4 separate regions of the Homo sapiens genome follow, and all the other regions are reported to be linked to region 4. The links are microRNA targets in miRTarBase. Many come from high-throughput screens and were not tested one by one. Region 4 holds a microRNA gene; each other region holds the end of a gene's coding sequence.
The links. The annotated mature microRNA hsa-miR-15a-3p reads CAGGCCAUAUUGUGCUGCCUCA and lies in region 4 at 1,862-1,883, shown strand. An mRNA with a match to its seed (bases 2 to 7 or 8) in the 3' UTR can be bound and repressed. Matches are read on the target gene's strand: a 7mer-m8 pairs with bases 2 to 8, a 7mer-A1 pairs with bases 2 to 7 and ends in A, and an 8mer does both.

Region 1: the mRNA of SH3BGRL is a reported target of hsa-miR-15a-3p. Seed matches in the 3' UTR shown: 8mer at 1,776-1,783.
Region 2: the mRNA of DDI2 is a reported target of hsa-miR-15a-3p. The part of its 3' UTR that is shown has no 7-base or 8-base seed match.
Region 3: the mRNA of TFAM is a reported target of hsa-miR-15a-3p. Seed matches in the 3' UTR shown: 7mer-m8 at 1,787-1,793 and 7mer-m8 at 1,748-1,754.

What each region holds. Positions count from the first base shown.
Region 1 is chrX:81,296,861-81,300,109 of GRCh38, reverse strand. SH3BGRL (SH3 domain binding glutamate rich protein like) reads right to left here. Exons shown (of 4, transcript NM_003022.3): 4 at 1,563-2,915. The coding sequence ends at 2,883. Among named protein-coding and RNA genes, the nearest start is that of SH3BGRL, 96 kb to the right of the region's middle.
Region 2 is chr1:15,656,347-15,659,595 of GRCh38, reverse strand. It overlaps DDI2 (DDI proteasomal shuttling factor 2), which reads right to left. Exons shown (of 10, transcript NM_032341.5): 9 at 2,917-2,979. The coding sequence ends at 2,963. Among named protein-coding and RNA genes, the nearest start is that of RSC1A1, 1.7 kb to the left of the region's middle.
Region 3 is chr10:58,394,773-58,397,772 of GRCh38, reverse strand. It overlaps TFAM (transcription factor A, mitochondrial), which reads right to left. Exons shown (of 7, transcript NM_003201.3): 7 at 1-2,845. The coding sequence ends at 2,699. Among named protein-coding and RNA genes, the nearest start is that of TFAM, 11 kb to the right of the region's middle.
Region 4 is chr13:50,047,764-50,051,012 of GRCh38, reverse strand. It overlaps MIR15A (microRNA 15a), which reads left to right and starts at 1,812; the gene lies at 1,812-1,894. DLEU2 (deleted in lymphocytic leukemia 2) reads left to right here. Exons shown (of 14, transcript NR_152566.1): 6 at 1,351-1,429. It overlaps MIR16-1 (microRNA 16-1), which reads left to right and starts at 1,952; the gene lies at 1,952-2,040.

The DNA of each region.
Region 1 (3,249 bases), not on the chromosome of region 4:
GCTACAACATGGATGAAACTCAAAAATGTGGTAACTAGAAGACACAAACCACAAAAGACCACATATTGTATGACTTTAGTTATATAAAATGTCTAGAATAGGTAAATCCACAGAGACAGAAAGTAAGTTGGTGTTTGCATAGTGCTGAGGGAGTGGGGGATGGGGAGTGACTGCTATTGGGTAGAGTTTATTTGTTGGGTGATGAAACATTCTAAACTTAAATCTTAGTGATGGTTGCATGATTCTGTGAATATAGTAAAAGTCACTGCCTTATACACTTTAAATGAGCAAAGTTTACAGTATGTGAATTGTATATCTCAGTAAAGATGTTAAAAAGACAATTGTGTGAAAATAGGAATTATGGTAACATTATAGTACTCTTTACAAAGGATTTCAAAATTTTGTTTGCTAAATAAAGGAAGGTGATAATAGATACAGGGGAAGAATGATGGGTGGAAGCAGAAGACTAGAAGGTTCAAATTAATCAAATGTGCATGTTTCTTAATCAGTTTTGTTGGAATTCTTCAAAAGAAAAGAAATATGTATTTTACATTAAAAAGATTAGACCAATGTCAACCTTTCAATATTTTTCAGCATCCACAACTGGGTAATAAAATCCATGTGAATCCTCATTTTTCCTTTTGCTGAATGAATGGAATATGTGCAATGAAATCTGACTTCACCAACATTTTCTGTATTTAAACTTTCCCAAGCAAGTAATTAACAACTTCTGTTTTAAAATTCTGTTTACCCCTACACTCAGACTCCCAAAGAAATGTTGACATTTAACAATGCAATCGACGTCCAATTTGCATTGTTTGGTGAAAATGAAAATCTTCCTGAGAGTCAAATATTCCCAAGAACAAACCAGCTCAATAACTGAACATAACAAATAAACAAGTCTGATTTACAAACAGAAACAATCTGAATGTAATATAACAAGTGGCAAAGATTATATTTTCCGGCCAAATATTTTGGAGATTTTTTTAAATAAAACTCACCTTCATATTCAGAATTTCACTTGCATTTTTGTATCTACAAAACATATTTCTCAGCTGACAAAATAAAATATTTCAGTTTAGGAAGACTCAATTCAACCTTTTACTTTAATATACTATGTTAATTTTAAGTTATATAAACATGGCAAAAAATACATCTATTTTTAAAGAATGCCCATTTTGGCAGTGTTAACTTATTTGACATTAAAATAAAAGTGAAAATGACCACATAAAATATTGCAAGTATCATCAGCAACATTTAATAAAGCTTAGGAGAAAATATTGACTAAAAAACTTTTTTTGCGTTTCCAGTGTATTACAAAGCACCCTGTTTTCTCTAGAGTTCTTTATGCCGTATTTTTGTAAACCCAATAAAATTGTTCATTTGACCTCATGTGTATTGTGAGATTAAAAGCCCTAAAAAGAAAACATAGAAAACGAAAACCTTGAATTGCATTCAAAGCTTTTTCTTTCTACTATTTTCTCTTTTTGCATTCCCAACCCTCTAAAAAAAGATATTACTCATCTAAAATTACTATTATATAAACTCCAAGAACACATAAGTTATGTTTCTAAAAGTACTGAGTTTATTTTAAAGCATAGCATCAAGTTTGAATCTCATGAAACAAAGGCATCTCTTCATTATATGTTGATTTTGGCAAAAAGTAAAGACCAGCATACAATAGATATACATGATAATGTAGTTTAAAGTAAGAGGTGTTTGCTTTTGGTAATAAGGTAGTGTGAAACTTACTATGTAAATCTATGTTGGTTATTTAGGCCATGTTTCTTGTCTTTTTAGAAGTCTTCAGGCTTAATATTTTAAAAGTTGCCCTTTTTATTTGATACTTCTACTTTTTGCTGGAATAGAGGCATAGAAAAGATTCTCACTGCTTAGACTAATACACTCATACAATACATGGCTAAACTGAAATAAAAAGGTAAGATATCTTAGGAATAGTAGCATTTACGATTGTGAGTTGTTTTAAACGGGCAAAACTACTAAGATTTGTTTTAGCAAAAACTCAAGGGAAACCAATCTTGGGAAATGATCGCCAACCTGTTTTATAAGAGTTATTTAAAAGTCTAATCTCTTTGCTAGAGAATGCCATTTTAAGCTTACTTGGCATCCCACTTTCATGATATACATATGCATATTTCACTGAGGCAAGGAACTTGGATATATCATTCCATCATAGCTGTGTAGTTAAACAAGGAACTTGTCCACTGAATGAATCTATTGCTTTTGTGCGTGTAAAAGGATATCTATTCTGATCACTGAAATGTGCAATGAAAGGCTACATTTAGAAGCTCAGAAAATCTGTGGTTCAATATGTAGAAGTTTCATCTACAAAAGAATGGGAATGTTATAATTACGATAGGAAATTACAACGTTTAACATATCATAAACATTACCTGCAAGAACTTTTTAATCGCAGTAATATAGCATCAAAAAGGTACATATTCTTGTTCATGAAAATTAATGAGGCAACTTAGGAATGAGAGACAGGTTATTTCTCTTTCTCCTTTTTAATGTAGAGCTGCAGATACACTTAAGTTGCCATAGTAATGGCAGAAGGAGGGAAGGGTGTTTTCTTTGTAAAATCATTGGTGTATACAGGATGGCTTGGCAGGTAACAACACTATTTCTACGATATCTACTTATTAATATAATTTTATGTTAATATCCCATTCTCCTCACCATAATCACCATAATGTTCAAATTTTAATTTTGTATTCATTTTGAATGTTTGCATGTGAAAACCCAACTAATCTATTATTTCAACATTAAGCCTATTTCTTTTGAAGCAAAGCTAATTCTGCTATTTTATAAAAGCAATGGAGACTCATTTTTCAGGATGCTTAAAGCACAGTGCTTAAGGTTCATGCTTGCTGCTTTGCTTGCACTTCTGCTTCCTGAAATGAAAAACAAACAAAACAGATAAGTTTAAACATCACAGAGCAGACACCCATGTGTATTTTAGTCAGACTACATTAGTTCCAACTACTAAGAATAAACAAAAGCCCCCAGAAGAGATTTCTTAAAAAGTTCTTAATAGAAAAACTATATAATACAAACAGATTTCTAGAAACAGATACACAAAAAGACTACCTAATCATTCCTAATGATTTGGAATACTTTCATGAAAGCAAGTGATATACAATTATAATTGATATTTTACTTAAAAATAGTCAGTTTCCTTTTTGTGTGATTTTTTTTCATGAAAATTGAGAATATAAAAACATGGTT
Region 2 (3,249 bases), not on the chromosome of region 4:
GTATCCATTAATATGCATTCACATAATGGCGGGGTTAGTGCTCAGGAATGAAGGACATTTATGTTTCTTTATTCCCTAGTCTAGTCTACAACTCTAGAATAGTTTCTCCAAGTGTACTTTTTTCACCACTTGCCCTAAAACCACCAGGGACGCTTGTGAAGTATGCAGACCCTGGGGTACCATACTTGAGAGTAAATCCAGGAATGTGCATTTTCAATAAGCTCCTTGGGTGATTCTTAAGGATATTACAAATCCTGAGAATCTTTGCACCAGAATGATTCTCATGTTAATGCACTTTTCTTGTTTCAAATGTGAACACTGAGGTTACAAATGAGAAGTCTTAAACCAGGTATACCTGGACAGAGAGGGAATTATAAAGAGAAATAAGAAATAACATAATGCTTGGGGACAGAGAAGCAAATGTTCTATTTTATTTCTAGCCAAGCTTTCCAAAAATCATGGTAAAACTGGGTGAGCATCTGACTCAGAAAACAAAAGTAAACTAATGATCAGCAGATTAAATCACAATCATCATCCTACCAAATAATACAACTCTAAACTTAAAAGGCTTATAAGTTTTTATCACATCAATAGTGTGCAACTAAGTTAAGAATATTTAAATGTTTTAAAGAAAGGGGAATGTGGAGGGAGATGGTTCATTAATAGTTTTTCAACTGGCAATGACTATTTAGATTCACTGCTACCTTAGACCACCCAAACAAGACGGCTCAGTGTAAGCATCATAGTATCATTAAACATCATTTCCAGCTCTTCTTTTGCCACCAATCCAGTTAAAAATTGACCTCTACGCATGTAAGTGTAAGAATTTTTTTTTTTTTTTAAGACTGTGTTTTGCTCTTGTTGCCCAGACAGGAGTACAATGGCGCCATCTGAGCTCACCGCAACCTCCGCCTCCCGGGTCCAAGCGATTCTCCTGCCTCAGAGTAGCTGGGATTACATGCATGCGCCACACACCCGACTAATTTTGCATTTTTAGTAGAGATGAGGTTTCTCCACGTTGGTCAGGGTGGTCTCAAACTCTTGACCTCAGGTGATCCGCCCGCCTCAGCCTCCCAAAGTGCTTGGATTACAGGCAAGAGCCACCGCACCCGACCATTGTAAGATCTTTAATTAAAAATCAAAAAGGGCTGGGCACAGTGGCTCATGCCTGTAATCCCAGCACTTTGGGAGGCCGAGGCAGGTGGATCACCTGAGGTCAGGAGTTCGAGACCAGCCTGGCCAACGTGGTGAAACCTCATCTCTACTAAAAATACAAAAATTAGCCAGGCGTGGTGGTGGGTGCCTGTAATCCCAGCTACTAGGTAGGCTGAGGTGGGAGAATTGCTTGAACCCAGGAGGGAGAGGTTGCAGTGAGCCAAGACTGCACCACTGCACTCCAGCCTGGGTGACAGAGTGAAACTCAGTCAAAATAAAAAATAATAATAATAAAAAATAAAAATCAAAAGGTCAGTAACAAAAATGACTTCAAAATACAATCTATTATTAGGACAGATGCAACTCAAATGCTCAGTACTAAATGTTAACATCCAACAAGAGGGCTTGATCTTAAAAAGCAGCAAAGCAGTTATATTCAAAAGGCTTTAAATCATTCTAATAAACTACTGGTTAACAGCATGAGAAGACAAAGCATTGTTTCAGGAAGCTATTGACTTCCCATGAAACAATCTTACCTTACTTACACTTTAGGAGTAAAAAGGAAAACTGCACTTATCTCAGTTTAGGCTATACCCATTAGAGTCTAGAAACACAGTTATTAGTTTTTTTATTTTCATACCACCAGATGTCTAACAGTTATTAGTTTTATTTAAAACTAAGGCTGACTCTGGAAGAGGTTGAATTTTGAACTAATGTTAACAGAAACAATGCACTGTAGTGAAATATCCATGTAAGCAACATAAAGAGGTATGGTAAGGGCCTTCTGGTATTTGTGTGTTAGTTATAAACAAGTGAGGTCAAGGTGAACACACCCTCAATGAATTTTGTACTAAAAAAGTAGCATATAGTCCTCTTGTAGCTGAGAAGGTCAGTTTCACTAGCCTAAGTCCTAAACGTAGGGGAGGACTAGGTCAGTTTACAGAATGACAGGAGAAGAGGATGAGGACAGTGGATATTAAGAATAATTCAACTATGCCTGCTTTTAACCTATCCTTACAAGGAAAAGAAAAAGGAAAGAAAGAAGAGAAACTAAATGCTATGTATCTAATTCCAACCAGCTTGCAAACTCCTACAAAGTCTTATGATGCTGGTTTAAAAGACCATCTTTCCTCCTCTTAGTAAGTCAGCCAATGTATTCGAGCTGATGTTTACCATTATTTACATCAGAGGAAATGGAAGCAGAGTGCTTCCTGAAAATCTGTCAGGCCAGAGACAGAAGGAAAAGCAAAGTCTTAGTTCCTGTTGTTCAGAGTCACCCCTGACAAGTCCTCTGGCCTAAGTTTCCATTTCTTCTTCAACAAAATTAAAATTTCTAACCCTCTATAACTCCAGGTAGTTGTATGCAGTAATGTAAAAGAACAGCTTTCAGTTTTTCAGAGGAAAGGCACTTATGAAACCCATGAAAGCATAGTTATCTCCAACAACAAAGTGTTGTGAGGCCAATATTCTTGATGTGATATTTATAGTAGCCAAGATGGGGTAGATATAATAGACACTGTTTTAACTGGGATTTTCTCCCTGTTGGATGGTTCTAATAACGAATCCATTTTTAAACAGGAGTTTATGTTACATATCCATGTATGCATGCCAAAATACAAATGCATATAGGCTAGTTGTAACCAGATTGAACAAGGTGAAATGGTGAATGACAAATGCTAACTTCCCAAACTGCTGCGGATACAGACTGTCAGATCACAGATGACAACTGGATGGAAGGCTTAACATGGTGTCTATAAATACCTGGTCTGGGGCCCACTCCAGCTGCAGTACACACACACTACATGCATCATGGCTTCTGACGCTCTGTGTGAATTAGGAAACAGACAAGCAAACTTGGGTTAACAATGCAAACCACACAGCATGCAGGGTTATAGTTTCCGTTCTTTTGCCATCTTTAAAATCAGGAACTGGTAGATTCCAAGTTGAGGGATGTTTCTGTAGTTTGGACATCCAAAATATTTGTTGGTTGCTTCCATTCTCTCACAATACACACAGCAATCTGTTAATTTCAACAGATTTTTAATAGATCTTGTAAAGAAATTAATTTTGTTTCTACACATAGAGAATTCACGG
Region 3 (3,000 bases), not on the chromosome of region 4:
ACACACACACACACACACACACAAATAAGACTTTATATGAGTGGTCATTGGTTATGATGTTCTTATTCTTTATAAGAGAAAATCTGTGTATACTGTTACAGCTGAATGGCATTTGGTATATGGCATGCCAGTCTTCCACATGTACTGATGTTTAAGAAAGGCTTGGATCCAGTGTGTATTCTGGATGTCGGGGGAAAAAAAGGCTTGGAAACCAGGTTATCCTATTATTTAAAATATTAAAAATTACATTATTTTAGAAACAGAGAACCAAATACAAGCTGATACTACCATAAAATTACCATAAAATAGTTTTGCTCTTTTTTCACTGTTTACACCTTTCCTCCCTATATTAAGTTGTTAAGTACTTGAGAAACGTACTTAACACTGAACTTCCCAATATATTTGGGAAGGTATGATATGAATGTTAAGTATAAAATAATACGGGTAGTTAATGTTAAAAGAACTCAGAGGAAATTTCCCCGCAGGGTAACTACAAAGATGTTTTCTATGCTGCATTTGTCCCGAGATGTTTATGTAACTCATTCCTCTATCTCAATCATTACATACCCCTCATTACAAACACTCCTATGTGCTCTCTGAGCTCATCTGAAGAGAACAGAATTGAGTCGATGATTTGAGTTATGATTTTCTCCATTCTCCTAGGGACTGTACATAATTAGTACCATTCTAGATGACACAGGGACTTAGGGCTTTTTCTCCTGCAAACCTAATTGAGAAAGCCTGTGATAGACACTAGCACACCTCCTTCTCTTTCCCCCTACTCCCAGACTGCTCTGGCCTCAAACCCATCCTATCTATTTCACCAATGGCCAACACTGTCCTGTCTGCACCCAGAGTGAGAAGCTCCCACAGGGAAAAGTTATTTTAAAATATCCAACTTTATATATTTAAAGCCTCATATTTCCTCATAAGCTACTATTTTTCTCTCCCATTCCTACCTTTGTCAAGCTCAGCATATAACAAGTCATCTTTTTGTGACATCAAAGTCTTCAAAGTCTTTCTGGAGATCTAGAATCTACAATTTCTAAATATTTTGCATAACGCATAAAGTGCATATAAATTGAGTTATCCTATATCTGTGAACTGATGAGAATTATTCTGCTCAAACAGGTGGTGAAAACCTTTGCTTGACTCTCCTAAAAGGATAAACAAATACTAAAGAAAGATGGCTTTCAACTACAGTGAGGTTCTTGTGATATGTGCTACTGGAAAAAGTACATTTTTACCAAGCCATAGCAAATAATTTTAAAAGAATATCATTCCACAGTATATGGATCTTTTTCATTATACTGCAATGTAATTTGAAACTAGATTATTTTCCTTGCTAACACTGAGAAGCAACAATTTGTTTAGATTATCTAGTGATGACCTTTTTCCTCTTAAAGGTGACAATGATTCTAAAACAAGAACATCTGAAAACATTTGAAAAAACTATCCCAACACTTCAATACATTGGAACAGTAGTCATATCACACTATACTATAGACCATGGGTTGATAAATTTTTTCCATAAACAGACAGACAGTAAATATCAGGCTTTGTGGGCTATAGTTTCTGTGGCAGCTACTCTGCCACAGAAAAGCAGCCATAGACAAGTAAAAGAATGATCTTGGTTGTGTTTCAACAAACTTTATTTATGAACACTAAATATTCATGTTAATTTTCAAGTATCATAAAAGTCTTTAAAAAAAAACATTTAAAATTATAAACACAATTCCTAGCTCACAGGCCATAAAAAGCAGGCAGCAGGCTGGATTTGATCCACAGGCCATAGTTGGCTGTCTCTTAAACAGGCTTTTATACGTTATGCAAAGTGTTTCAAATTCCAGAGACTTTGGAGACTTTTCGTTTTTTAGATTTCTCATTTTAAAACACACATAATACAAGTTTTCTTTCTGGATCAATATACTCACGAGAGAAAATAATTCAGAAAAAAATAAAATTCCTTACTTAAAAAAAGGGAAAAGCTATAGAACAAATGTTTCGTCTTAAAATATATTTAGGAAATGTAAAATTAAAGATTAAAAATTTTATTCTATGCAACATAAAATAATATGCATAAATCTGGCACATAATTTCTTTGTTTTTACTTTAGAAAAAAGACAGTAAGAAAAAAGTTTATAAATTTCTCAGTCCCTTTTATACAAAGTTGCAACTAAAACCAGCAATCACTTATATGTACAACCATCAACTCTGAATACAATGTGAATTATACCTAGGAACTGTAATTTACCTAGATGAGTTCTGCCTGCTTTATGAAAAACACACACTTATATCACAGAACACCGTGGCTTCTACAATTTGTAACAATTTTGAAAACGAAACTCCTGCCTCCATAATATAAGGAAACAAGAGTACTCTTTCCATAGTCATCATCCTGTATAAAAAAAACTTCATAGTCTGATTTACCTTTGTCAAAGGTAAAATGATTCACATTTGCTTGGATTACTCTGATCCTCAGTAGTTCCTAAACACAAAATAAAGTTTGCATGAACCTTTATCTGGGTTTTCCAAAGCAAGTATTATGCTGGCAGAAGTCCATGAGCTGAATAAAAAGATACTAAATATAAAAGGTTTACCAACTTTATCCTTTCTTAATTTTACGATAGCTTCAGGTATTGAGACCTAACTGGTTTCCTGTGCCTATCCATTGTGAACACATCTCAATCTTCTACTTTTAACACTCCTCAGCACCATATTTTCGTTGTTTCTTTATTGTGCGACGTAGAAGATCCTTTCGTCCAACTTCAATCATTTGTTCTTCCCAAGACTTCATTTCATTATGATAACGAGTTTCGTCCTCTTTAGCATGCTGAATATATAACTGAGAAAAAGCATAACTGTTAAAATGATTTACTTATTTTTTGAGATAAAATGATTATTTAAAATAGCAATTAATTTCTGGAATGCTTCTGTATATACTTTAGAAATTACATTACCATTCTACATGTATAAAGGCAGACTGGAGAAGAAATATTT
Region 4 (3,249 bases):
TTCAAGACCAGCCTGACTAACATGGTGAAACCCTGTCCGTCTCAAAAAATAAAAAAAAAGTGCAGGTCAGGCATGGTGGCTCTTGCCTGTAATTTTAGGACTTTGGGAGGCCAAGGCAGGAGGATTGCTTGAGGCCAGGAGTTCAAGACATCCTAGGCAACATAGCAAGACCTTGTCTCTACAATAAAATAAAAATGTAAAGAGCTGTGCATGGTGGTGTGTGCACTTGTAGTCCCAGCTACTTGGGAGGCTAAGGTGGACTGATCACTTAAGCCCAGGAGGTCAAGGCTGCAGTGAGCTACGATCATGGCACTGTACCCCATCCTGGGCAACAGAGTACCCTGAGATGAGAAGTAAAACAAATCCTGTAGCTCTTGATCTTCCTATTCCCTACCTATTTCCGGTCCATTTACCAGGTAAGGAAGTATACTCCTAAAGTTTCCACTTACTCAGATGTAGAAATGAATTTCTTTTTCTCTAAAAGATACGGAAACTACTCTCTTAAAAAAAGAAAAAATAAAAATTTAAAAAACGTTGTGCAGAAACTTGAGACAATAAGGAGCAGAGTTATATGTGAAATCCAGGTTGCTTAGATAGGAGATTAGCTACATATATTTTTTATTAATGGGAAAAATACTCAGAAAAATTTCATATGGAATGTGACCCTGTGCTTTGTATAAGTAATTAGATATTAGAATGGAAGAGCAAATTTTAGTGCTTTGGTTGTGTACATCACCTTACTATTCTGTAATAGATGTAACTTTAGCATAGTCATTTTAATGATGAGAACATGGGGCAAAAAAGATTGTCCAGGCTTGAATGGTGGCACCACTAGAGTGGTGGCAATTTTCTGATATCTTTTAGAGAAAAGGAATTTCATTTCTACATCTGAGAAAGTGGAAACTAGGAGTTTCTTCCTTACCTGGTAAATGGGCCAGAAACAGGGAATAGGAAGATTAAGAGCTATGGGATTTGTTTTATTTCTCATCTCAGGGTACCAAATTAACTCATCATCCCAAGGATTCATATTTTAGAATTACTTAAGGATTCATATTTTAGAATTACTGTATCAAATGATATCCAACTCTAAGAGAACTTCTAGTATGAAGATCAATGTTGAAAGTAAAATATTTAGATTATTAATAACAAATTATTTAAGGGAGAATTAGTTTGTTTAGAGCTTTTTTTCTTAACTATATTTGGAATTAAAATGTCTTAATTAGATATTTAATAAAATTAACATTTAGAATTAAAGTATTTTTCTTTAAAAGTATATTTGCATTTTGCTAGCTTAAGTTTATTGAAACTGAGCTCTTGTATGTCATTTCATGTTTTTCCCTTGATGTGAAGTCTTACCTATTTGATGAAGATGTCTTTTGAAAGGTGTACTGCAAGGAACAAAATGTTTGTAAATTCTCCTTTTACCAAGGTAAAGATCAAATTTTATAAATTTACTTGTTTGTTTATACAAGGAAAAATAACTTCATATATTGAATATATTCAAAAGTTTAAGCATTTAGTTGTATTGCCCTGTTAAGTTGGCATAGCAAATAAATGCTTTTCTTTTCCTCATTTTATTCTTTGTGTTTCCTAACCTATAGCACTGTGCTGGGCACAGAATGGACTTCAGTTAAGTTTTTGATGTAGAAATGTTTTATTATTCTACTTAAAATCTCCTTAAAAATAATTATGCATATTACATCAATGTTATAATGTTTAAACATAGATTTTTTTACATGCATTCTTTTTTTCCTGAAAGAAAATATTTTTTATATTCTTTAGGCGCGAATGTGTGTTTAAAAAAAATAAAACCTTGGAGTAAAGTAGCAGCACATAATGGTTTGTGGATTTTGAAAAGGTGCAGGCCATATTGTGCTGCCTCAAAAATACAAGGATCTGATCTTCTGAAGAAAATATATTTCTTTTTATTCATAGCTCTTATGATAGCAATGTCAGCAGTGCCTTAGCAGCACGTAAATATTGGCGTTAAGATTCTAAAATTATCTCCAGTATTAACTGTGCTGCTGAAGTAAGGTTGACCATACTCTACAGTTGTGTTTTAATGTATATTAATGTTACTAATGTGTTTTCAGTTTTATTGATAGTCTTTTCAGTATTATTGATAATCTTGTTATTTTTAGTATGATTCTGTAAAAATGAATTAATACTAATTTTTCAGATGTATCATCTCTTAAAATACTGTAATTGCAATTTAATAATTGTATTGAATGCCATCAAGTTTTTTTAAAAAGCTTATGCAGCATTAGAGGAATTTATTTTAATGCACATTTATATTCAACATAGACATTAATTCAGATTTTTACTTGGGATAAAACAAATTCTAGTTTTCCCTTTGTTTTGAAATTACTTTTAAAATATGTCTTTACAGATAAATATAAAATATATTAAGCATTTTGAACAGAGCTTAGAAGACAATATTTAGTACTGTTTCTGAATATTTCTTTATATCTGAAGGGGAAAAGCCATCAAAATATGTGAATTAAATACCTAAAATTCTGGTTGTCAAAACGTCACACTTAACCATAACTTTAAAGGTAGAAAAACCCTTACAAGTGACCAACCCACTCATTGGATAGCTAAGGAAACACAAAACTCAAATAATTTGCTACACATCACAGATTGGGGTCTTAGTCTTATGTCTTCTAACTTTATAATGGTATACTATTTTTTTCATGTTTTTATTAAAATGTTTTCTTAAATCCTTAGCCAAAGATTTTTGTTTGATAAGTCAAAAATAAGGTCTTGTTTACTTTGTTTACTTTTTTGTATTCAAGATTTAACTCAGAGTAAGACCAAATTATCATTGTAGTTTTATTGATATAAAATGTCAACATAATTTAATTTTTTTTTTTACTTTTTTGTATTTTTAAAATTTTTTATTAAAAATAAAAGTAGACAGCCAGGTGCGGTGGCTCACGCACTTTGGGAAGCCGAGGCAGGCGGATCACCAGGTCAGGAGATCAAGACCATCCTGGCTAACACGGTGAAACCCCATCTCTATTAAAAATACAAAAAAAATAGCCAGGCGTGGTGGCGGGCGCCTGTAGTCCCAGCTACTCGGGAGGCTGAGGCAGGAGAATGGCATGAACCTGGGAGGCGGAGCTTCCAGTGAGCTGAGATCGCACCACTGCACTCCAGCCTGGGTGACAGAGGGAGACTCTGTCTCAACAAAAAAAAAAAAAGAAAAGAAAAGTAGAGCTGGGCACAGTGGCTCAAGCCTGTAATCCC